Regions from separate parts of the Homo sapiens genome. Here regions 1 and 3 are each linked to region 2. The links come from fine-mapping of genetic effects on gene expression. A gene starts in region 2. Each other region holds a variant in brackets. All regions are shown on one strand. Distances are from middle to middle. Region 1 holds the start of GPR33 (G protein-coupled receptor 33). Region 2 holds the start of HEATR5A (HEAT repeat containing 5A). Region 3 overlaps GPR33 (G protein-coupled receptor 33).

Region 1 (8,182 bases), 71 kb after region 2:
ACCCGAATTATGGGAAAGATTTTTTTTTAATTGTGCATCTGAGCTCTAGAAGGACATCTGAAAGTAATGTAGAACATGGGCAAAATCATAGTAAAACTTTTCTGATCAATGTTGGTAGTGATTCTGAATATCATATAAAGTTTCCTAGGAATTCTGATTTATTGCACATAACCAGGAGATTTCTTCATCCTTAAACACCTTTAAAATGATGTTAAAGTACTTGAGAATAAATAAATGGGGCAGATCTCAGACTCTGGCATCCCACAGACCTGGGTTTGTATCCTACCTCTACCACTTACCAGCTCTGCAAGTTCAGATAACTTGTTGAGACTTTTTCTCCTGCTAAGCCCCTCAGTTTTTTTTTTTTTTTTTTTTTTTTTCAGATGGAGTCTTGCTCTGTCCCCCAGGCTGGAGTGCAATGGCGTGATCCTGGCTCACTGCAACCTCCGCCTCCTGGGTTCAAGTGATTCTCCTGCCTCAGCCTCCTCAGTAGCTGGGACTACAGGCACCTGCCACCATGCCTGGTTAAATTTTGTATTTTTAGTAGAGATGGGGTTTCACCATATTGGCCAGGCTGGTCTTGAACTCCTGACCTTGTGATCTGCCCGCCTCAGCCTCCCAAAGTGCTGGGATTACAGGCATGAGCCACCGTGCCCAGCCACAGGCGGCTTTCAGGAAGACCCCACCTCCACTTGGGAACACTGAGCTGCTGGCGCAGGGGAAGGCCACAGGAGCATCGGGAAGCTAATGTGCAATAAGCCTAGAGGGTCAATTCGGATGATAGCTCTAGGATAAACCTACTAGTCCAGAGAATCTTACCTCAGACCTGTATCTTCATGCCAGATTGGTCTTGAGCAGGCCAAAGTGACTCTACACCATCAATTTCTCACTAGGAACAGAGTGAACAAAATCAGTGACACTTTGCCTTCATTTCATATGTCTTTCTTCTTGCTGATGCTACTCCCCAAGCTTGAACTTGCTATTATTTAAATACTCAGTGAGGTCTTTTCCTCTTTTTGGTTCCTTTTTTTCTGTGGAATTTACTGCTATAGAGGTATAGAGAAATGAGTACTTCTTCAAATTATTTCTCCATTTTGAGGGGCATTAAAAAAAATCTGTAAGTGACCAAGTGCAGTGGCTCACACCTGTAGTCCCAGTGCTTTCTGAGGCCGAGGCAGGAGGACAACTTGAAGCCAGGAGTTAGAGACCAAAATAAAAAAAAAAAATAGCCGGGCCTGGTGGTGCACACCTGGCACACCTGTAGCACTAGCTACTCAGGAGGAGAGGCTGAGGCAGGAGGATCACTTGAGCCCGGGAGTTCGAGGCTGCAGTGTGCTATGATCATGGTGGTGAATAGCCACCACACTCCAGCCTGGGCAACAGAGTGAGACCCTGCCTCTCAAAAGAGAGAGAGAGAGAGAGAATGAATTGCATAAGCTAAGTCATTTCATTTAAAAGGTTAATAAACTTGTTTCGGGTGTTAATTCCCTTCTCGTATTGGGTCATCCCGCCAGGCACCCACTCTGCCTCAACTCTAGGGTGTTTATTAGCAGATGGATGGATGGTGTTGGGTACATAAGGAGGTGGTAAATATCAGGCAGAGACCAAAATAAACTCTGGAAATGAGCTATCTAATCTTTCTGGACAGAAAATAGTTAGAAGGAAAAACTTAAATACTGAGTTTCACATTAAAATGGAATTTATGAGGACAGGCCAGAGATTTATATTATTCAGTTTGGGTTGATGAAGACTGACAGGCAGAACAATCTGCATTTGTATGATGGTTGTAGAACGGTTGGAAAAAAACAGAATTGGTTACTACATCCTAGAAGATGATCTCATTATAAGGAATCTTCCAACACAGGTAATGCATTTATGAACCATTACTGACTGAGTTCTACATTTCCTATGTTCTTCTCTCTAATCTATCTCTGAAATTTTTTTTGGATCCCCTTCTGTGCTGACCTCAGTGTCCTGATTTTTTTCCTGCCTGCTTTCCTCTTCATCTCTTCATTACCAGTGGAGAAAATACATCAAAACCACTGTGCAGCGTTGGTGGTCAAGAGTTTAGGAATCAAAACCATTACCCAGTCTTTGTTAGACTTAGAATTTTAAAACTTTAACTGCTAGATTGTAGCCTTATTAAAAATAGGCTTAAATTTCAGTTCTTAATTCATTTGTGGCTGTGACCTTCAACCTAAGAACTGATCTTTGCAGGTTAAGGATAAATTTTCAAACCTGCTACTGTGTTTTAAAAGGGATTTTAAAAGGAATTTTGACAGGCTTTCATACCCTTGGGGTTAATTCACAGATTTGGAAGCAATCTGAGATATTATTTGGTCCAAACCCACTAATTCTGAAGATTAGCAAACTGAGACTCAGAGAGGTTAAATGAATTACAAAAGGTTTTCACCAAGAAAAGCTAAGGGCTCCTTCTTATGCTATCTTCTCAATTAAAAAAAGGAATTTGGGCCAGGCTTTTCCTCTTCTCCCCTCACTCTCTGTTTCTCAATTCTATAATTTCTAAAATTCATAAATAACAAATATATTAGGGACTAGTTCTTAACTTTTCTCCTCAAATATGTACTAGGGCTAGTACAACCATTAGATAGCCTAAAATTTGATTATTATATATCTCTCCTCAGAAATACCCTTAATAGTGAGTATTTTCCTCCCATAGGTGATTAAACCAATGATATTAACAATGTTAGGAAATACACAGAGTGTATTTGAGGAAGTAATTCTCTTCTGTGGCTTTAGTAATGTGGCTTCTTTCAGTTCACTTTTCATATTTCAAATCAAGTCAGATGATTTCAAAAAAGAACTTATGGAAATGGAAACAGTTTTATGTTGTTTTGATATAACCACTGTTTGAAGCAGAAATGCAGAAGCAGATGGTACTGCTGAACCAAATGTGTGAAAGGCTAGTAACTCATAGATGCATATAATTTTTAGAGTTGGAAGAGACCAAGGAGTTAAATTCATCTAACTCCCATTCTATAAGTATTTCAGATGACTGCAGTTGTGTAAGTTATTTATGAATATGATTTGTCTGCTTATAAATGTTGTGCCTGGATGACTGTCCTTAGTATACTTGTTTATGCTTGCAAAAATATGTATGTTATTATTGCCTATTTTATTGTGTAAAGTGGCCTATAAAGTGTTCTGTTGTTTTTGTTACTTTGTTTTGTTGTTGATGCTGTTTTTAAGAGACAATGTCTCTCTCTATCATCCAGGCTGGAGTGTGGTGGAGTGATCACGACTGACTGCAGTCTTGACCTCCCAGGCTTAAGTGATCTTCCCACTTCAGCCTCCCCAAGTCACTGGGACTACAGGCGTATGCCACTGCAGTGGGCTATTTTTTTATTTTTTGTAGAGACGAGGTTTCACTATCTTGCCCAGGCTGATATTGAACTCCTGGGCTCAAGTGATTCTCCTGCCTTGGCCTCCCGAAATGCTGGGATTATAGGCATGAGCCACTTCACCTGGCCAATATGTTTCTCAAATAAATCTTTTAAAAATGTAAATGCCTTTAAAGAACTTAAAAAATTTTTTTTAGAATTTTTTTTTTCAGAATTTTGATCTTTTAGGATTTCAACATTTGGGATTGTGGCCCAAACCCCTATAGGTAAGGGTTTAGCACAGTACCTGGCACATGATATGTATTAAATATATGATAGCTAATGCCAGGTGGGGTGTCAGAGCCTTGCCACAGA[G/A]AGTGATCGGCTTGAAGGTGGTAAAAAGAATTTACCAACAAAAGTATAGGTTTGAAAAGGAAAGTTGTATTAGATGGAAAGAACACTGTGGCAGAGTGCAATGGGCGGGCGCTTCGGCAAGAGAGGACTGAGGGAGCTGCAGTGGATTTTCCTTAGGGGTATTTATGGACCTTCAAGCAGGAGCTTAAGGATAATTTGGACCATATTAGTCACACAGGTAATGATAAATGATTACATTTGTAGACATTTTGGTGCTGTGACATCAGTAAGAATTGCACAGTGAGTTTTGACACGCATGCAGTCTGAAGATCTATAGAAATTCTAGTTACTTATAAGTTTTTGGGAAAGAAGCCTGGTACCAGATGCCAGCTTTAGATAGGAAGGACATCTAATTACTTCTGAATTCCTCAGATAAGGAGTTTTGCCTCCAGATGGTCTGCTTGCTGACCACCAGGTGATCTTTGCTCTCCTCAGCTAACATTAATATTATGTAAGTTGTAGTAGAGAACACCTGCAAGTCCAGTGGGCTGGAGCAAATCTCTGAGCAATGCAATTCAAGAAACATTCATTGAGTATCTATTGCATGTAAGACAGTATTTGAGACTGGGGAAAATAAAGTAAGTACTTCAAAATAATTGCCCTTAATGTTTGTAGTTATTAAAGGTGATACCTGAACTCAATAGCTTAGGGATGTTGGGGAGGGCATATTCTGGGTCTTGGAAACAGTATGCTTAAAGGCAAAGCTGAAGAGAGCAATGCTTCATTTTTCTGGCCTGGTTCTGTACTTTTCAAGGTCACTTCTCACCACCCTCCATATTCCAGCATAGTGACAGTGACAATGCAGGTGTCACTCCAGTGCTTTCTAGCCTGGCTGAAGTCACACTCACCTGGAAATCTTTAAAAACATACAAGGTGTTCCTGAGATTTCATTCATGCAATGTTTACCAAGTATTTATTGTATTTGAAGCACTATTCTTGCCACTGGGGAGAGACAGTGATAAGAGCTGTATTCTTATGGAGCTTACATTCTAGTGGGGAGAAGTGAGCATTAAACCAGTAAATAGAGGCAGATACGGTGGCTCATGCCTGTAATCCCAGCACTTTGGGGGCTGAGGAGGGTGGATCGCCTGAGGTCAGGAGTTCAAGACCAGCCTGGCCAACATAATGAAACCCCATCTTTACTAAAAATACAAAAAAAAAAAAAAAATTAACTGGGTGTTGTAATCCCAGCTACTCGAGAGGCTGAGGCAGGAGAATCGTTTGAACCCGTGAGGCAGAGGTTGCCATGAGCCGAGATCACGCCGTTGCCCTCCAGCCTGGGCAACAAGAGTGAAATTCCATCTCAAAAACAAAAAAACAAAACAAAACAAAAACAGTAAATAAACACAGAAAGAAGAGAAACATCAGCAAGCACTACAGTGCTATGCAGAATATTAAAACATAGAAATGTGAGATCATCATGGCAGATGGGAGACAGGACTAGATTGCAGCTCTAACTCGGACGGACAGAGCAGTGTGTGGAGGCTCACATCATGAATTTTAGCTCCAGAACGACTGCAGGAACAAAGCAGGAATCCCAAGAGGACCCACAGACCCTCTGAAGGAAGCAGACTGCTCCTGCAGGACCCAGGAGACACCCCAAATACTGTGAGTGCCCAAACTGCAGAAGTGGGAAAGGGAGACCCTCCTCTCCAGAACACACAACCCCACTAGGGAAAATGAACGTCTAGTTTGTGGGAAGTTTCACACCTTACCAGGAGCTGAGGCAATTTAGAGAGGCAAGTGAATTATGCAGCAGAGGAACAGGAAAGGTCCTGGGAACTTGCTGGGTCCCCAAGCAGGCCTTTCCTGCCTGGCCCCACAGGGATCCTTTTGGGAGGGCAGCCAGAGGTGTGGGGGAGTGGGGTGGGGGATGCCACAGGGAGAAGGAAGTCTCCAGCTAAACTTTGTAACAATTTGACCTGGGCAAGAAGCCTCCTGGCCAGAACTCTGGCGAGGGTGTGAATCCGGCATCCAGACTCCACAGGTGAGGGAGGAACCAAACCCTTTTCTTTTGCAGCTGGGAGGCGGGTAGCCTGGGGCAAGTTCTCAAGCCCTGCTTGCTCACTGCCTGGAAACAGACTCGTGGCTGTTAGGGATGGCACAGTGGGAATGAGAATGGCCCTTTGGATTGTGTGGGACCTGGGTGAGGCCTGTGACTGCCAGCTTTATCCCACTTCCCTGACAACCTGCATGACTCAGCAGAGGCAGCCATAATCCTTCTAGGTACACAACTCCATTGACCTGGGAACCTCGCCCCCATCTCCACAGCAGCTGCAGCAAGACCCACCCAAGCACCCAAGGAGAGTCTGAGGTCAGACGTGCCTTGTCCTGCCCCCCCCCATGGGCCTTTCCTACCCTCCCTGGTAGCTGAAGACAAAGGGAATATACTCTTGGGAGTTCTAGGACCCCACTCACTGCTGGTTCCTCTTCATATTACCACAGCTGATGCTCTCTGGAAAGCACCACCTTCCAGCCGGAGACCAACCAGCACAAAAATAGAACATTGAATGCAAATGGCCTAAACTCTCCACTTAAAAGATACAGAACTACAGAATGGATAAGAAAGAACTCACCAACCATCTGCTGCCTTCAGGAGACTCACCTAACACATAAGGACGCACATAAACTTAAGTAAAGGGGTGGAAAAAGGCATTGCATGCAAATGGACACCAAAAGCAAGCAGGGCTAGCTATTCTTATGTCAGAAAAAACAAACTTTAAAGCAACATCAGTTAAAAGAGACAAAGAGGGACGTTATATAATGGTAAAAGGCCTTGTCCAACAGGAAAATATCACAATCCTAAACATATATGCACCTAACAATGGAGCTCCCAAATTTATAAAACAATTACTAATAGACTTAAGAAATGAGATAGGCAGCAATACAATAACAGTGGGGGACTTCAATACTCCACTAACAGCACTAGACAGGTTACCAAGACAGAAAGTTGACAAGGAAACATTGGATTTAAACTATACCTTGGAACAAATGGACTTAACAGCTATGTACAGAACATTTCATCCAACAACTGCAGAATACACATTCCATTCAACAGTGCATGGAACTTTCTCCAGGATAGGCCATATGATAGGCCATAAAACAAGACTCAATAAATTTAAGAAAATTGAAATTATAGCAAGCACTCTCTCAGACCACAGTGGAATAAAACTGAAAATCAACCAGAAATAAACTTCAAAACCATGCAAATACATGGAAATTAAATAACCGGCTCCTCAATGAGCATTGGGTCAAAAACGAAATCAAAATGGAAATTAAAAAGTTCTTTGAGGAGCCAAATCAAGATGGCCAAATACGAACAGCTCCCATCTGCAGCTCCTAGCAAGACCAACATAGAAGGCAGGTGACTTCTGTATTTCCAACTGAGGTACCCAGTTCATCTCATTCAGACTGATTAGGCAATGGGTGCAGCCCACAGAGGGCAAGCAAGAGCAGGTGGGGCATCGCCTCACCTGGGAAGTGCAAGAGGCTGGGGACCTCCCTCTCCTAGCCAAGGGAAGCCATGAGGGACTGTGCTGTTTGACCCAGATACTATGCTTCTCCCACACTTTTTGCAACCCCCAGACCAGGAGATTCCCTTGTATGCCTGCACCATCAGGGGCCTGGGTTTCAAGTACAAAACTAGGCAGCTGTTTTGGCAGACACCGAGCTAGCTGCAGGAAGTTTTTTTTCATACCCCAATGGCGCCTGGAACCCCAGCAAGACAGAACTGTTCACTCTTCTGGAAAGGGGGCTGAAGCCAGGGAGCCAAGTGGTCTCACTCAGCAGTTCACACTCCCACAGAGCCCAGTAAGCTAAGAACCACTGGCGTGATATGCTTGCTGCCAGCACAGCAGTCTGAAGTTGACCGGGGATGATGGAGCTTGGTGGGGGGAGGGACGTCCACCATCACTGAGGCTTGGGTAGGCAGTTTTCCCCTCACAGTGTTAAGGAAACTGCCAGAAGTTTGGACTGTGCAGAATTCACCACAGCGTGGCAAAGTGGCTGTGGCCAGACTGCCTCTCTAGGTTCCTTCTCCCTGGGGAGGGCATCTCTGAAAGAAAGGCAGCAGCCCCAGTCAGGGGCTTAAAGATAAAACTCCCACCTCCCTGGGACAGAAGGGGTGGCTGTGGTTGCAGCTTCAGCAGACTAAAACGTTCCTGCCTGCCAGCTCTGAAGAGAGCAGTGGATCTTCCAGCACAGTGCTCGAATTATGCTAAGGGACAGACTGCCTCCTCAAGTGGCTCCCTGCCTCCTGTGCCTCCTGACTGGGAAACACCTCCCAGCAGGAGTTGGCAAACACCTCATACAGGAGAGCTCTGGCTGGCATTAGGCAGGTGCCCCTCTGGGAAGAAGCTTCCAGAGGAAGGAGCAGGCAGCAGTCTTTGCTGTTCTGCAGCCTCCACTGGTGATACTCAGGCAAACAG
Region 2 (8,182 bases):
ATTCAATGGGTAACTTCAGTTTTCTGGTAATTTTATTTACATAAAAAAGGTGTTATTACTTGTTTCGAGTAAGGTATTATTTTGTGTACAGACACACAAATATGCATATATTCAACATGTAGAAACCTCCAAATGCAACAGAAAAGTATATAAATGCTATTGTATATTTACCCATTAAGAAGCATTACTTGGGCAATACAGGACAACTAAGTTACTGAAAAAATACATTACACACATAAAACAACAATTTAGTAAAATTAGCACCATACTATGGGTTTTTTTTTTTCCTTTTCTTTTTTTTTGAGACAGGATCTCAATCTGTCGCCCAGGCTGGAGTGCAGTGGCAGGATCTCAGCTCGCTGCAACCTCTACCTCATGGGTTCAAACGATTCTCCCACCTCAGCCTCCTGAATAGCTGGGACTCCAGGCGTGTACCACCATGCCTGGCTAATTTTTGTTTTTGTTTTTTGAGATGGAGTCTCGCTCTGTCGCCTAGGCTGCAGTGCAGTGGTACGATCTCGGCTCACTGCAACCTCCACCTCTCGAGTTTAAGCAATTATCTGCCTCAGCCTCCTGAGTAGCTGGGATTACAGGCACCGGCCACCACGCCCGGCTAATTTTTTTTTTGTATTTTTAGTAGAGACGGGGTTTCACCCTGTTGGCCAGGCTGATCTCAAACCCCTGACCTCAAGTGATCTGCCCGCCTTGGCCTCCCAAAGTGCCAGGATTGCAGGCATGAGCCACCGCATCTGGTCGATGGTTTTAAGATTGGCAAAAGTATATGTACAGCTTTAAATATTTAAAATTATCACCTTCTTCAAGATTTCCTTCATTTTTGTCACATAACCAGCTCCAATTTCTTAGGCAAATAATTAATATAGTGCTTTAATATGGCCATATTATGCTTCTTTTCTAGAAATAAATATTTTGTGTTGTTACCATTAAAAAAAAAAGAAAAAAAAGCCCAAGCATGATTCAGGATATATACTCCTGTTTCAATCTGTTAGGTATCTGTTTAAAGAGTGCTAACTTTCCATTTGGTTCTCACTGTAAATATGTCTGATTTCTTGTTCAGTTACACTTCCAATAATATTCTGTCTGACCTTATGACCAACTAGGAATCACTAGATTCCTGTTTAAAAAACTCTTTTGAGGCCAGATGTGGTGGCTCCCACCTGTAATTCCAGCACTCTGGGAGGCCGAGATGAGGGGATTCCTTGAGCCCAGGAGTTCGAGAACAGCCTGGGCGACATAGCAAAACCGCCTCTCTACAAAAAATACAAAATATTAGCTGGGCATGGTGGCATGTGCCTGTTGTCCCTGCTACTCAGAGGCTGAGGTAGAAGGATCGCTTGAGTACACTCCAATGACTCTGTCTCAAAAAATAAAATAAAATAAAAATAAACAAATAAATAAAACAAAAAAAACCCTGCTTTGAGTAAAGGTACCTTACTGCTGCTTATGATAAACCCTATGAATGGCATAGTAAAAAGAGAGAAGTTTACTAAACGAAAAAAATTTCCCATACCAGATCTAAATTAAAACTTAACACAGTTGCTAGAGAAAATATAAAAACTCTTCCTCTTCCCTAGACTTACAAAAGGCTAGAGTTGGCCGGGGCGGTGGCTCAAGCCTGTAATCTCAGCACTTTGGGAGGCCGAGGTACGCGGATCACGAGGTCAGAAGATGGGAGGCCATCCTGGCTAACACGGTGAAACCCTATCTCTACTAAAAAACAAAAACAAAAGCAAAAAACAAAACAAAAAAAATTAGCCGGGCGTGGTGGCTAGCACCTGTAATCCCAGCTACTCGGGAGGCTGAGGCAGGAGAATGGCGTGAACCCGGGAGGCGGAGCTTGCAGCAGCCCAGATCGCGCCACTGCACTCTAGCCTGGGTGACAGAACAAGACTCTGTCTCAAAAAAAGAAAAAAAAATTAGATGGGCGTGGTGGCACGCGCCTATAATCCCAGCTACTCCGGAGGCTGAGGCAGGAGAATCGCTTGAACCCAGGAGGCGCAGGTTGCAGTGAGCCTAGATGGCGCTACTGCACTCCAGCCTGGGGGACAGAGCGAGACTCCATCTCAAAAAAAAAAAAAAAGGAGAGAGTTGCCAAAATTATAAAACTTTACACTAGGTAAATGTAGCAGAAAAACCATGCCCTTCCTCTATCATTACACACTGCAGATCCAGAAGCATTTATGAGTCCTACAATTACCTGACATTATAATGAAAAACCAAGATTAATAAGTAAAAGTGAGGCTGGGCGCAGTGGCTCATGACTGTAATATCCCAGCACTTTGGGAGGCCGAGGCGGGCGGATCACCTGAGATCAGGAGTTGGAGACCAGCTTGGCCAACATGGTGAAATCCCGTCTCTACTAAAAATACAAAAATTAGCCTGGCGTGGTGGTGCATGCCTGTACTCCCAGCTACTCGGGAGGCTAAGGCAGGAGAATCACTTGCACCGGGGAGGTAGAGCTTGCAAGTGAGCCAAGATCGCGCCACTGCACTCCAGCCTGGGCTACAGAGCCAGACCCTGTCTCGATAAAAACAAAAACAAACAAACAAACAGAAGAATTAAAACTGAATTTAATCTATTTCCTCCTACAAAAGATTTAGTGATTAAGCACTTAAGAGCTCTAGTTCAGGGGTCCACTAATTTTTTTCTGTAAAGGACCAGACAATACTCTAGGCTTTGGGAGCCATACGGTCTCTATCACAACTACTCAAAAACAAAACATGCACAGCCATAACGAAGGAGCATTGTTGTGTTCAATAAAACTTTTATAAAACTGCCAGCAGAGCAGATTTGACCCACAGGCTGTAGATTGCTGAGCACTATTTTAATTCAAAAATTTAACACTAGAACTAGACAAGGGATCTAATTAAGTGACACAGGCAAGTCTTTACTAAGTTTTTTGGCCCCAGTTAATTGATTTCTCAAATGAGATTTAATAACAGTTTCTCAATGTCTCCTGAAAAAGCAGAAGTGTTATTTATATGAGGACTGTGGTCTCATTAAAGGATTGTTCAAACTCTTCAATTATACTATGGGATAATTAATGAACCACACAAGACTCAATAGAGCTTTTTAAAAAAATGCAGATGTCATTAAACGCTTAATTCAGAATAATTTTAGAATTTAAAAAATTCAGAATTTAACCCTTATGTTATTCATAGTTAAGAAAGACTATTATAAACTACCTCAACCTTTTTGAAACAAAGCAAGAAGAAAGGTAAGTGTATTGGTTAAAGACAAGTAAAAAAATAATTTTTTTCTGTAGATAATATATTCATTAGTTTAATGTAGTTAATTTTAATTAATAATTTAAGAATTAAAAAGGTACTTTGGAGTCATGTATTTTCTGTGACTAAAGTCAGATACAATAATGAATAATACTAAAAAAGTGACCTAATCTAACATCCATAAATAGTGGAGGGAACTTAAGCTAGAATTCAGGTCTCCTGACTTTCAGGTGAGGAGTCTTTTCTTATTCTCCTATTCTATAGTCATCTAGGTAAAACAACTGCATTCCAAGGCACAACAAATCCATACTACAGTATTCTCCAACTGTCACTATTCTTATATTATAAATCCTGCCTGCTTATCAGTGAAGAAAAAAAAAAAGTCAATGGCATTAAAATGTAACACAAATCTCGGCTTCGATACTTTATCTAAAATTACTTTCTCAAAGACATACTTTCTAAAATGTTTGGAAAATTAAACAAAATTCTCCTCTCCCCATCCAACTAATGCTCAATTCTAACCACACTTCTGCTTTCCCTACAGCTTAAGTAATTTCACTGGGAGTATTTTCTCTGGAAGTTCTTAAGTGTACTTGTGGGCCCCTTTTTTTCCTCCTTAAACTTCTAATATCTTTCAGGCTGTAAATTCCTTAAGGGCGCCTAGCCCCAAAAAAGTGCTGCATATTTGTTCAATAAATGAATGCACATAAAAACAATGGATAACTATGACCTTTAATGTAGGAGCTCAAGCCATTTTATTATTATCTGACTTGACAGTCAAGAAAATTATCCCAACTTGCCAGAGGTATCCATTACTGTGATAAATAAACACTATAAAACGCTTTATAAAGTTTCTAAAGACTTTATAATCACTTGAAATAACGCCGCGTTGGCCGAGAGTAGGGTGAAAGAAAATGTTTCCTCACACTAAGCAAATGCCACCAAAGGAAAAGCTTTCTTTCCTGGAGAGAACTGCAACAGTTAGAAAGCAAATATCCACACTCTCCACTGCTCCCTTCTGGGAACTCTCTTTGAGGGTTCCTGCAGAAAACGAACGGGCCTCTGAGGAAGCTCGCCCGAAGGCCGGGCCGGGGCCCGGCTCCTGGCTGACCACTGGCGCAGCGGACGCCGCAGGGCGGGTCCCGGGAGCGGCGAGTTGGCGAGGCGGGCTCCGACTTGCTGACCTTCCCCACACGCCCGGCAACCCCGGCTCCCGCTGGCGGGCAGAGTCCACGCCTACCTGTTGTGCACAGGTGAAGCCAGACTTTCCCGTAGTCCAGGAGGAAGAACGGACCACGCTGTTTATCAGCCGACCCTGTGCCCCAGTCAGCCCCTTCTCGGCGGACTCCAGCCCTTAGGGTCAAGACACCTAGCCCCTCGACCGGTTCTCCCACCGGCTTCTTTCGCGATCACATTGCTGCCGCGACCACCCTCGGGATCCCCGAGCGCTCAACTCATACAGCGGCCCTGGTGCGTTCTCCTTCCCAGCCAACAGGCAGCCCAGACACAGCCCCCTCGCGCCCGGAGGTGTCCCCGCTCCCTGGATCCCCGACTGCCTGCCTTTGGGGGTCCTCCTCAGCTGAGCGTGCGTCCCGGTCCAGCAACGTTACCGGCTGCTCTGCTAACCCTAGCAGAGTCTGGAATTGCCGGCGGCGGCGACAGCGAGGCATTGAGGTGGGCGGGGCGCGCGTGGGGCGTGGCCGGAAAGCTCTCAGCGGCGAGCACCGCGGGAGCTAGCGATTGGGAGCGCGCCCTGCGCCGGGCCGCTGGTCCAAGGCCCCGCCAGCTGGCCGCCGAGCCATCGAGCGCCCACTCTGGCAGGCGTGACTGCTTCACCGTCGAAAGAGCGATGGAGACTGCGGCCCAAGTTAGGATTAGGACAGCGGTTTTTCAGTCCGGAGATTCCGGCCACAACTATTTTTGTCTGTTTTTATCGTAAGCCAGAGTCTTTGGGTGCAGCTCTGGGACACCTAAAGGGCCTGGAGAAATTCAGGCGGGGCCAGTGCTGTGGGGGTAGATGTTAGACGTGGAAGGGACCCTAGAGAGCCTTGACTGTGAGGACTGAGGTAAAGTGACTTGCTCAAGGTCACATACTAAGTCAATGGCAGAACTGAGACTAATAGCCTCTTACCTTGAGTCATGTGCGTTTTCCCACTACACTCAGCGTTTTAAATGTCATTTTTCAAGTTTCATTTTGAATCTATCTCCAGCTTACAAAAAGGTTGCAAGTATAGTACAAAGAACTTTTTTTCCCTGAATTGAGATTTAAATTGCTGACACCATGCCACATTGTCCCTAAGCACCTTCTACATAATCACAATATAACCATCAAAATCAAAACATTTACATAACTCGGCGTTTTACCAATTGTCCCAATAATATTGTTTATGGTAAAAGATTCCGTTCAGAATCAGGCATTGTATTTACTTATCATGTATCTTTCCTACTCTTCAAACTGGAACTCTCAGTCTTGCCTTGCCTTTCATATTCTTGACGCTGTTAAAGATTCCTGGCCAGTTATTTTTGTAGAATGGCCTTCATTTTGGGTCTGTCTGATATTTACTCATGATTACATTTAGCTAGGTATGACAGGACTCTAGAAGTGTTGCTGCTTTCTTCTCATGGCACCCTATCAGGTGGCACGATTTTAACTTCTCTCATTACAGATGTTTACTTTAATAAGGTGATGTCTGTTAGGCTTGTCCAGTGTGGTTACTTTTTTCCCCCCTTTGTAAATTAATAAGTATTTTGTGAGGGAGACTCTGAAACTCTCCTTTCAAGATATTTGTAAATATCTTGTTTCTCATCAAATCTTCAGTTAATGTATTTATATTAATTAGTATGGATCCAGAGGTTTCTATTTTGTTAAATGACTTATAATCCGTTTCTTTCTCTCTTTTCTCTCTCTCTTTTTTTTTTTTTTTTTCTTGAGACAGGGCCTCCTTTGTTGCCCAGGCCGGAGTGCAGTGGCTATTCACAGGTCGATAATGCAATCATGGTGCACACTACAGCCTTGAACTTCTGGGCTCATGTGATCCTTCTGCCTCAGCCTCCCAGGTAAGTAGCTGAGACTGCAGGCATGCACACCACCACACCAGCCAATATTCTGTCTCTATCATTATTTATTTTGATGCTCAATTATCCCAAGTTTGGTGGGTAGGGGCCCCATTCATTCTATCTTCTGTGATATGTGTGTGTGTGTGTGTGTGTGTGTGTGTGTGTGTGTTCAATTTTTTTTTAAGACAAGAAGACAAGGTCTCATATTCATTCTAGCTTCTGTGTTGTGTGTGTGTGTGTGTGTGTGTAATTTTTTTTTTTTTGAGACAAGAAGACAAGGTCTCACTCTGTCACCCAGGCTGGAGTGCAGTAGTCTGATCACAGCTCACTGCAGGCTCAACCTCCTAGGCTCAGGTGATTCTCCCACCTCAGCCACTCAAGTAGCAGGGACAATGGGTGTGCCACTGTGCCTGGCTAATTTTGTTTGTTTGTTTTTGTTTTTGTAGAGACAGGGTTTCACCATTTTGCCCAGGCTGGTCTCGAACTCCTGGGCCCAAGCGATCCACCCGCCTCAGCCTCCCAAAGTGCTGGGATTACAGGTGTGACCCACTGTACCCAGCCTTAAATTCTCTCTCTCTTTTTTTTTTTTTTTTTTGAGACGGAGTCTCGCTCTGTCACCCAGGCTGGAGTGCAGTGGTGTGATCTTGGCTCACTGCAGCCTCCGCCTCCCGGGTTCAAGCAATTCACTGGCCTCAGCTCCTGAGTAGCTGGGATTACAGGCGTGTGCCACCATACCTGGCAAATTTTTGTATTTTTAGTAGAGACGGGGTTTCACTGTGTTGCTCAGGCTGGTCTCAAACTCCTGACCTCATGATCAGCCCGCCTCGGCCTCCCAAAGTGCTGAGATTACAGGCATGAGCCACCGCGCCTGGCCCCAGCCTTAGATTCTGTAAACATTTTATTGTAAAATATTTTTTAATACAGAATAATTAAAAGAGCTTTAAATACCATATACACATAATCCAGATTCAACATTAACAGGTTACCATTCTGAGGCCTTTTGACACATCCCCATCATTCTTTCAGCACTCCCCTAGTTACTAGGGCAATTAGATGTTTCATACTCATCCTGCTCCAGCCTTGGATGTAATCATTTATTCAGGAGCCCTGATTCCTTATAGCGGAGAATGGTATTTAGCACTAGGTATGCTCACTGCTATTGAGATATCCATAGCCCAGGCTGTCTGAGTGGATGCAGTTAGGGAATATTTATACATTCATACACATATACAGCACATCTTTATATGTATCCTTACACACACATTTACAGTTATATTTCTTTGTCTAACAATATATATTGAAAAATCATGTGTTCACAGTAAAACCTCCAATCCAGCATCATACAGTTCATTCTAGTTTTTGCCCTTCCACATTTATAACTACTTTCTCCTACAGAGAGAAGCCTGGCTCCCATTATCCTTGAGATATTTACTTATTTGAACAACCCTGCTATGTGTGAGCAATCATCCATAGTTGCCATCTATTCCTTTGGAGGATACTGCCCTTACCCCACTAAGGTTCTGAAAGCCCCAAATTAGCCATCTCAAGCCCCTCTCTCATCTTTCTTTCCTTACCATCACTCCCACACCCTGTGATCATGCCTAGCCCATAAACCCTGCCGACAATGCTCAGACCCAAACATCCCTTGCCAAGCATCCCCCTTACCTCACTTTATATAGATTAGACATACACTATATATAATCATATATATTAGTTATATATTCTTTACAGCACCCTATATACACATACATACATTCAATATATAGATTAGTTATATATCTCATATATTCATTATATATTAATTTTTATAAAACCCTATATATACACACACTATATATGTTATATATCATATATATTTGTTATATATATTACTTACAGTA
Region 3 (8,182 bases), 61 kb after region 2:
GTAACCCCTTCTCACTCATGTAGAAATCAGAACTTAAATTCCCCAGCCTCATTTGCAGCTAGGATACAGGCATGCTGACTAGATATCCTTGTGCAAGACTAAATTTGGAAGTGAGCAATGTGAATAAGCAAGCTCTGCATGAGATTTCTGTCCTGTTGTCAGAGCTTTCAGGCACAGAGTGGTTCAAGACCTAATGCAGAAATGGTATCAGCGGCAGTAGCAGTTTTAGTAAAGCCAAATTGCTGATATTTTGGGCTCAACAGCAGCAGCAGCAACATTTGGTATCATTTACTGAAATACGGAACACCAGTGACAAATTCCTGATTTGGGTAGTTTTGTGGCATGTTTTGGGCATGGTTTCTGAGAGCTGCTCCTTGAATGTTTCTCCAACTATCCTAATAATTCTGTGAGTTACTTAATGTCTTTTAATAAATCAGTTTTTGCTTAAATCAGCCAGAATGAAATCTACTGTTTGCAACAAAGAACACTAATTGACAGAGGAATTGTCCTCAACTTCCCCTTCAACCAACAGAATTTACAGAACTCGACTTTTCTTGATCCTTACTTACACTTTTTTAGTAGGCCACATCATCTGTTACTTAGATTACTTTGGCACTGTCCTATTTGGCCACCCACCTCTAGTTTTGACCTCTCTACTGTAGTAGACAGAGCAATCTATCTTTCTAAAATGCAAATCTCAACCTATCACTCTTAGGTTTAAGGTCTTTCAGTGGCTTCCAAATGCCCTCAAGATAAAGTCTAGGATCAAGTCCAAATTCCTTCTTATAGGCTCTCAGGATCTAGTCCTGGTTGACTTTTCCAGCTCATGTTTCCAGCCTGCTTCTCACACTTAATGTTGCAATTATGTTTTTTGGCTTGTGCTGGACCAGCAGCAACAGGATCCCTTGGGATCCTGTTAGAAATGCAGAATCTGGGCCGGGTGCAGTGGCTCACGCCTGTAATCTCAGCACTTTGGGAGGCCGAGGCGGGCAGATCAGGAGGTCAGGAAATCGAGATCATCCTGGGTGAAAGCCCGTCTCTACTAAAAATACAAAAAATTAGCTGGGCGTGGTGGCGGGTGCCTGTAGTCCCACCTACTCGGGAGGCTGAGGCAGGAGAATGGCGTGAGCCCAGGAGGCGGAGCTTGCAGTGAGCCGAGATCACGCCACTGCACTCCAGTCTGGGTAACATAGCAAGACTCGGTCTCAGAAAAAGAAAAAAAAAAGACATGCAGAATCTGGCCTGGAGTGGTGGCTCACGCCTGTAATCCCAGCACTTTGGGAGGCTGAGGCAGGTGGGTCATGAGGTCTGGAATTCAAGACCAGCCTGGCCAAGATGGTGAAACCCCGTCTCTACTAAAAATACAAAAATTAGCCGGGTGTGGTGGCAGGCACCTGTAATCCCAGCTACCTGGGAGGCTGAGGCAGAAAATTGCTTGAACCTGGGAGGCGGAGCTTGCAGTGAGCCTAGATCACACCACTGCCCTCCAGCCTGGGCGACAGAGCAAGACTCTGTCTCAAAAAAAAAAAAAAGAGAAATGCAGAATCTGACTTACTGAAGTTAGATTTACTCCAGGTTTACTGAATCAAATCAACATTTAACAAGATTATTAGGTGATTCATTTGCATATTGAGGTTTGGGTAGTGCTGCTTTATAGCAATGTCTTCTCTTTCCCTCCAGGGCTCTTACACATTCTGCTTCCTCTCTTTGAAGGAACTATCCTCCTCTTCTTTATATGCCTAACACTGTTCTGCAGGACTCAGGCCCTTATCCAGGAAAACTTTTTTGACTGGTGAAGGCAGGAATTACCATTTTACTCCTTTTTCTTTCCTACTAAACTGGAGTTTTCTAACCTAATTGTACTTTAGACTTAATCTGAGAATAAAAAATATACTGGCCGGGTACGGTGGATCACACCGTAGTCCCAGCATTTTGGGAGGCCAATGTGGGTGGATTGCTTGAGGTCAGGAGTTCGAGACCAGCCTGGCCAACATGACAAAAGCCTGTCTCTACTAAAAATACAAAAATTAGCTGGGCGTGGCAGCACACGCCTGTAATCCCAGCTACTATGGAGGCTGAGGCACGAGAATTGCTTGAACCCAGGAGGCAGAGGTTGCAGTGAGCCAAGATCATGTCAATGCACCTCAGCCTGGGTGACAGTGAGACTGTTTCAAGAAACAAACAAACAAACAAACAAAGATACTGGTTCCTGCGTCCTGCTTCTAGAGATTTTAGTTTTAATTGGTTTGGATAAGGCCTTGAAACTGACATTTTAAAAAAGTATCCCAGATGATTACAATGTGGAGCCAAATTCAGAACCACTGCACTAGACTTCAAGCTTCTTTAGGACAGGGATTGTGTCAGATTCACTCTTGTTTCCCCAGTGCCTATCACAGTGCCAGGTACATATACTATACTGGTAAATGATTGTTTCCCCTAATTTCTCAGGGATATGGAATCAGATTTGTGTTGTACACAGCATTCTATCTTATACCCTAACCCCTCTCACACACGTTAGCATCTGAGCATCCTTCTCATCAAAACAAAGAGCTACTTCTTGAGGAAAGAACTTACACTGGCATTTAAAATGCATCTCTAATCATCCTTGTATTTTGTTCTTAAACCAGTTTGATACTGATATAGTGAAGCTGCTTTATATAATCGAGTGCTGACAGGCACATTGTTTTGAAACAGTGTCTCTTTGTACCAGTTCCACAGAGCAAAACCACCAACTCTTTGTTTATAAACCTTTTGAGTCCTGAGAATTCAAAATAGTGAGGAGGTTGATGAGATCAACGCAATTATAATGAGTAGATTTTTAAAAAATTAACCAGTTTTCTGTGAGGTTAAAAATGCATTTGGGAATAATTTTCTTAATTATACCCTATTTTCTTACATTTAAATTGACTTTAAAAAAACTCTTAATATCTTATATTTATACAGTGCTTTACATGTTGTAATTGTGCAAACTCAACTTTTATTAAATATCTTTTATTATCAATTGTGTATAATATTATAGAAATGAAATGCTATAGTTGATAGAATTCTTTCTGTCCCTGAGTTGTTTACAATTTATAGAAAGATGGAACAAAATACTTCAAAAAGCCCTGACCTAGGTCTCATGAAAAAGACAATTTAAAGCGTACATAGATAGCTGTAAGGAATGACAACATATGGCTTACAAATACCACAAAATCCACGCTTTCCAGGGCATGTTCCTTGTTTATTATTGTAGCAGGCCTGAGGAGGTAGACAAAAGGCACTCTCTGTAGCTGCTAGATTTCCAAAATCCAAATCTTGTTTCAAAGAATCCTATGTTGCATTCAATAATTTTCTTTCTTAAATCCTGCATCATAAAACTAAAACTTCAGTGGGCTTGTCAGGACCTGGGATAGTGTGGGGTGGAAAAAAGCACCATCCATTTCTCATTGCAGCTGTAGTCGGAGCCACAGCCTGGTCATCAATTCATATCTCCCTTTCCGAAAAAGAAAAAAAAAACTGTTCAAGCTTCAAAACCTTGAAATAGGGTCAGCAATTAAAGTTTTCATCTACCCAAAGCTTTTGTCATTCCAAGTAAGAGAGACCAAGCCCCCAATTGCCCAGGGGAGCCCTGATACCACGTCAATTAGCAGGATTTCTAGGACACCAAACTACTGTTACTTTCTCTATAAAAAGTTAGTCATGAAGATTAATTTTCTTCTTTCTGTATCTCCTTGTAATTCATATCATACGTTTTGGGGATTTCTGCGTAGGCTATATGCTTGCGGTTTGGAATGCTTTGTACAAAGCATGCTGGTGTATTCAGGGACTGAGTGTGGGATGTGACCCAAATATCTCCATGTTGTATCAGTTGAACTAACTAGATAGTTCAGTTGATTTAGAATTGACAGGACTACCTATTGATTGACATGTATTGATTGATTGATAGAATTAACTAAATACAAAGACAATAGGTGAGTGATATTATGTGGTTCTACATAACTTAGGTGCAGTCACTTAGTACACAAAGCTTGAAACATAACCTGAAAATCAGAGAACACAAATTAATATTGTTATTGCATTTATAAAATTAAGTCTATGACAACAGGCAGATTCTTGAACATTATTTTAGCCCCAAATTTTGGAGATAGCTTACTCTATAAATATTAGAAAAAGACAGTTAAGATGCCTTAATAATTAAAACACTAAAGTAGAAGTGTCTTTATGCTTTAACATGGATGTAACAAGATGAGTGCCTTGTGGCCGGGCGCGGTGGCTCATGCCTGTAATTCCAGTACTTTGGGAGGCCAAGGTGGGCGGATCACGAGGTCAGAAGATCAAGACCATCCTGGCTAACATGGTGAAACCCCGTCTCTACTAAAAATACAAAAAAATTAGCCAGGTATGGTGATGGGCGCCTGTAGTCCCAGCTACTCGAGAGGCTGAGGCAGGAGAATGGCGTGAACCCGGGAGACGGAGCTTGCAGTGAGCCGAGATCATGCCACTGCACTCCAGCCTGGGCAACAGAGCGAGACTCCGTCT[CAA/C]AAAAAAAAAAAAAAAAAAAAGAGATAAGTGCCTTGTCACTTCCATGTTAAGTTTTATTCATACCAGTTAAATAATTTAGATGTTACTAAATAATGAGGGAGCTCTGTCCAAATGTCTGTCAGAAGATTCTGTGACAGAAAATTCAAATCCTTGGATACTATTGATCAATTTGGCAACTGATATTCCTAGCTTCAAAAATCAAAAGTTTTAGCTGGACATGGTGGTGTGTGCCTGTAGTCCCAGGTACTCCAGAGGCTGAGGCAAGAAGATTGATTCAACCTACCAGAATGACTACACTATAATTAAAAAAAGGAAAATAACAAGTGTTGGCACAGATGTGGGGAAACTAAAACGTTTATACATTGCTGGTGGGAATGTAACATGGTGCAAATTGAAAAGCTTTATGATTTCTCAAAAAGTTAAACATAAAATTACCATTTGAACCGGTAATTCCACTCTTAGGTATATACCTACAATAATTGAAAACAAGGACTGACACAAATACTTATATACAAATGTTAATAGTAGCTTTATTCACAATAATAGTAGCTTTATTGACAATAGTCAAAAGGTGGAAACAACACAACAGATGGCTGGATTTAAAAATTATGTTATATACATACAATAAAATATAATTCAGCTGTAAAAAGAGAATGAAGTTCTGATACTGCAACAACACAGATGAACCTTGAAAACATTTTGCTGAGTGAAGTAAGTCAGACACAAAAGGGTAAATACTGTATAATTTCACATATATGAAACATCTAGAATAGGCAAATTCATAGAGACAGAAAGTAGACTGGAGATTATTAGGGACCAGGGGGAGGAGGAATAGGGAGTTACTACTTAATGGGCACAGAGTTTGTCCTTGGAATGATGAAAAATTTTGGAAATAGATGGTGGTGATGGTTGTACAATTTCGTGAATATAATTAATGCCACTGAAATGTTCACTAAAAATGGTGAAAATGGTAAATCTTATGTTACACATATTTTTCCACAATAAAAAATGAGTCGAAATAATCATAGGTCCAGCACAGTGGCTCATGCCTATAACCCCAACACTTTGGGAGGTTGAGGCAGGCGGATCACTTGGCACCAGGAGTTTGGGACCAGACGGGCCAATATGGGCAAAATCCCATCTCTACTAAAAATATAATTAGCTGGGCATGGCTGGGTGTGGTGGCTCACGCCTGTAATCCCAGCAGTTTTGGAGGCCGAGGTGGGCAGATCACGAGGTCAGGAGATCGAGACCATCCTGGCTAACATGGTGAAACCTTGTCTCTACTTAAAATACAAAAAATTAGCCAGGCGTGGTGGCAGGTGCCTGTAGTCTCAGCTACTCAGGTGCCCGAGGCAGGAGAATGGCTTGAATCCGGAAGGTGGAGCTTGCAGTAAGCCGAGATCGCACCACTGCACTCTAGCCTGGGTGACAGAGCGAAACTCCTTCTCATAAAAAAAATAAAATAAAAAATAAAAAAATTAGCTGGGCATGGTGGTGTACACCTGTAGTCCCAGCTACTTGGGAGGCTGAGGCATAAGAATCACTTGAACCTGGGAGGTGGAGTTTGCAGTGAACCTAGATTGCACACTGAACTCCAGCCTGGACGACAGAGTGAGACTCTGCCTCAAAGAAAAGAAAAGAAAAGAAAAGAATCACATTTGCAGCATGATCTTGCAAATTGCTTGTTTTCTTGCAGCCCTTTTATTGCTCAGAAATCTAACTATAGTACAGCCTAGTTATCTCTCTAATATAGGGACTATAGCATACAAAAGCAGAAGGTATATCCTATTGGTATAATTGACCAAGTGCGTGTTTGCTTAAGAATCTAGAATTTAAATTTAGGCTTCTGAGTTTAGGTTTGTGTCCTTTCTACAGAAGAATCTTCACTAAATGTTGACTCAAACAGAGCAAGAATGGACTTCTTGAAGACCTTTTTGAAATTCTCCCCAACAAATAAGTAGAGTGTGGGAGAAAAGATAGTATTGAAAGAAGTGGTTAGCACTGTAAGTATCAAAGTCAACTCTAAAAGTAGTGACTGGTTCGTAGTGAGAAGTAAGCCCTGGTGTATATGGTAGGGCATCCAACACACAAAGAAAGAGATAATGGCAGTCATCATAACTTTGAAGGGCTTGCTGGATTTAAACAGGCTCCTCTCTTTCACCTTGCTGGCTACTCTTTCATAACAAAAGATGATGATGAAGAAAGGCAGAAGAAAGCCCAGCAAGAAGCGGCTGATGAAACAGGCCACATGAATCCACTGCCTTGATGCTTGCATCTCCTTGCTTTCCCAGTTAGTAGACACAGCATAGTTATTTTGGCAAGTCACCTTTCCTTTACGGTCATGATGTGTCTCTCTGAAAATCAAATAGGGGATGCTGAGGGCAGCGGCTGAAATCCAGACTCCCAGGACAATGCTGGAAGCCCAGCGCGGGGTTCGGTGCTGCTGGGACCACACTGGGTGAAGAGTGAGAAGGTAACGATCAAGACCGATGGCCGAAAGGAAGAAAACAGAGGTGAACATCCCCAGAGACAAAGTGCCATTGAAGACCTTGCACAAGGCAGTTCCAAAGTTCCAGTGATTGTCTTGAAGTTGGGAGGTGGCCATAAATGGCAGAATCATTGTTGAAATAAAATAAGAGAGAATGAGATGAAAAAATAAGAGAGTATTGACAGTCTGTTTCATCTTGAATCTTAGCACCCATAGATAGAGGCCATTGGTGATGGTACCAATTATAGATGAAATGTACAAAGAAAGGGCAATAATCATTTTTGATGCAGGAGCTAGAAACTGAGTGCTGTTTCTTACTAAAGTAGAGGCATTGATCAGGTAATCAGTAGAGTTGATCAGATCCATAATGACCTGTGGAGTGAGAAACAGTGAAAATAACAACAAGAAAAAGCAAAAGAAAAGGTTAAATGTAAAAATTTAAAGAGTAATTTTTTACATAGTGATACTTCTAGTCCAAATGATAATATTTTAACAGCAGTAAGCAAAATATTTCTGCAAATCAAATATTTTTCTAAGGTCTATACTTTTATGTTTTAATGAGGAATTAAGATCAGATGAATCTGAGCATCAAAAATAGAAATATATGGATGAAATGAAATAAATGTGAAAAGAAGTAAATGTTGGGACATTTTGACAATTGTTCAATAATTAGGTAGTTAAAAATCTATTTTTTTTTTCTGAGATAGGATCTCACTCTGTCACCCAGGCTGGAGTGCAGTGGAGTGATTACAGCTCACTCAGCCTCAACCTCCTGGGCTCAAGGACTCCTCCTGCCTCAGCCTCCCAAGGAGTTGGGACTACAGGTGCACACTACCAGGCCGGATAATTTTTTTGTTTGTTTGTTTTGTAGAGATGGGGTCTCACTATGTTGCCCAGCCTGGTCTTGAACTTTTGGACTCAAGTGATTTTCCCGCTTGGCCTCGCAAAGTGTTGGGATGACAGGTGTGAGGCACTGCGTGTGGCCAAAAATCTTCTACTTGGACGTTAACCAGAAGTCTGACACTTTTTGATGGGCAAAACTTCTTGAATAAGGCAATGTAGAATGAGTCTTATTTGACTTGTGAGGGCAAAAGTAGCTAATGAAATGAATTTGAATAACAAAAATAATAGCAATGTTGCAAATTAGTAGTTATGGGTTTTATAATT

What was found. PIP is the estimated chance that this variant, and not a neighbour inherited with it, causes the effect. A credible set is the group of variants that fine-mapping cannot tell apart.
Region 1: its variant is the best candidate, but not a certain one, in a credible set for the expression of HEATR5A in whole blood (INTERVAL, PIP 0.76).
Region 3: its variant is the best candidate, but not a certain one, in a credible set for the expression of HEATR5A in whole blood (INTERVAL, PIP 0.63).

Annotation. Positions count from the first base shown.
Region 1 is chr14:31,487,078-31,495,259 of GRCh38, forward strand. It overlaps GPR33 (G protein-coupled receptor 33), which reads right to left and starts at 962. Exons shown (of 2, transcript NM_001197184.3): 1 at 820-962. LOC105370438 (a long non-coding RNA gene) reads left to right here and starts at 2,887. Exons shown (of 4, transcript XR_943723.3): 1 at 2,887-3,026. RefSeq lists an enhancer at 5,421-6,620. The variant G/A (reference allele first, on the strand shown) is at 3,717.
Region 2 is chr14:31,415,667-31,423,848 of GRCh38, forward strand. It overlaps HEATR5A (HEAT repeat containing 5A), which reads right to left and starts at 4,884. Exons shown (of 36, transcript NM_015473.4): 1 at 4,806-4,884. HEATR5A-DT (HEATR5A divergent transcript) reads left to right here and starts at 5,092. Exons shown (of 4, transcript NR_110045.1): 1 at 5,092-5,311; 2 at 6,178-6,302. RefSeq lists a silencer at 4,345-4,464 and enhancers at 4,575-4,624, 5,055-5,204.
Region 3 is chr14:31,476,585-31,484,766 of GRCh38, forward strand. It overlaps GPR33 (G protein-coupled receptor 33), which reads right to left. Exons shown (of 2, transcript NM_001197184.3): 2 at 6,291-7,387. The coding sequence starts at 7,381. The coding sequence ends at 6,380. Among named protein-coding and RNA genes, the nearest start is that of GPR33, 7.4 kb to the right of the region's middle. The variant CAA/C (reference allele first, on the strand shown) is at 4,522.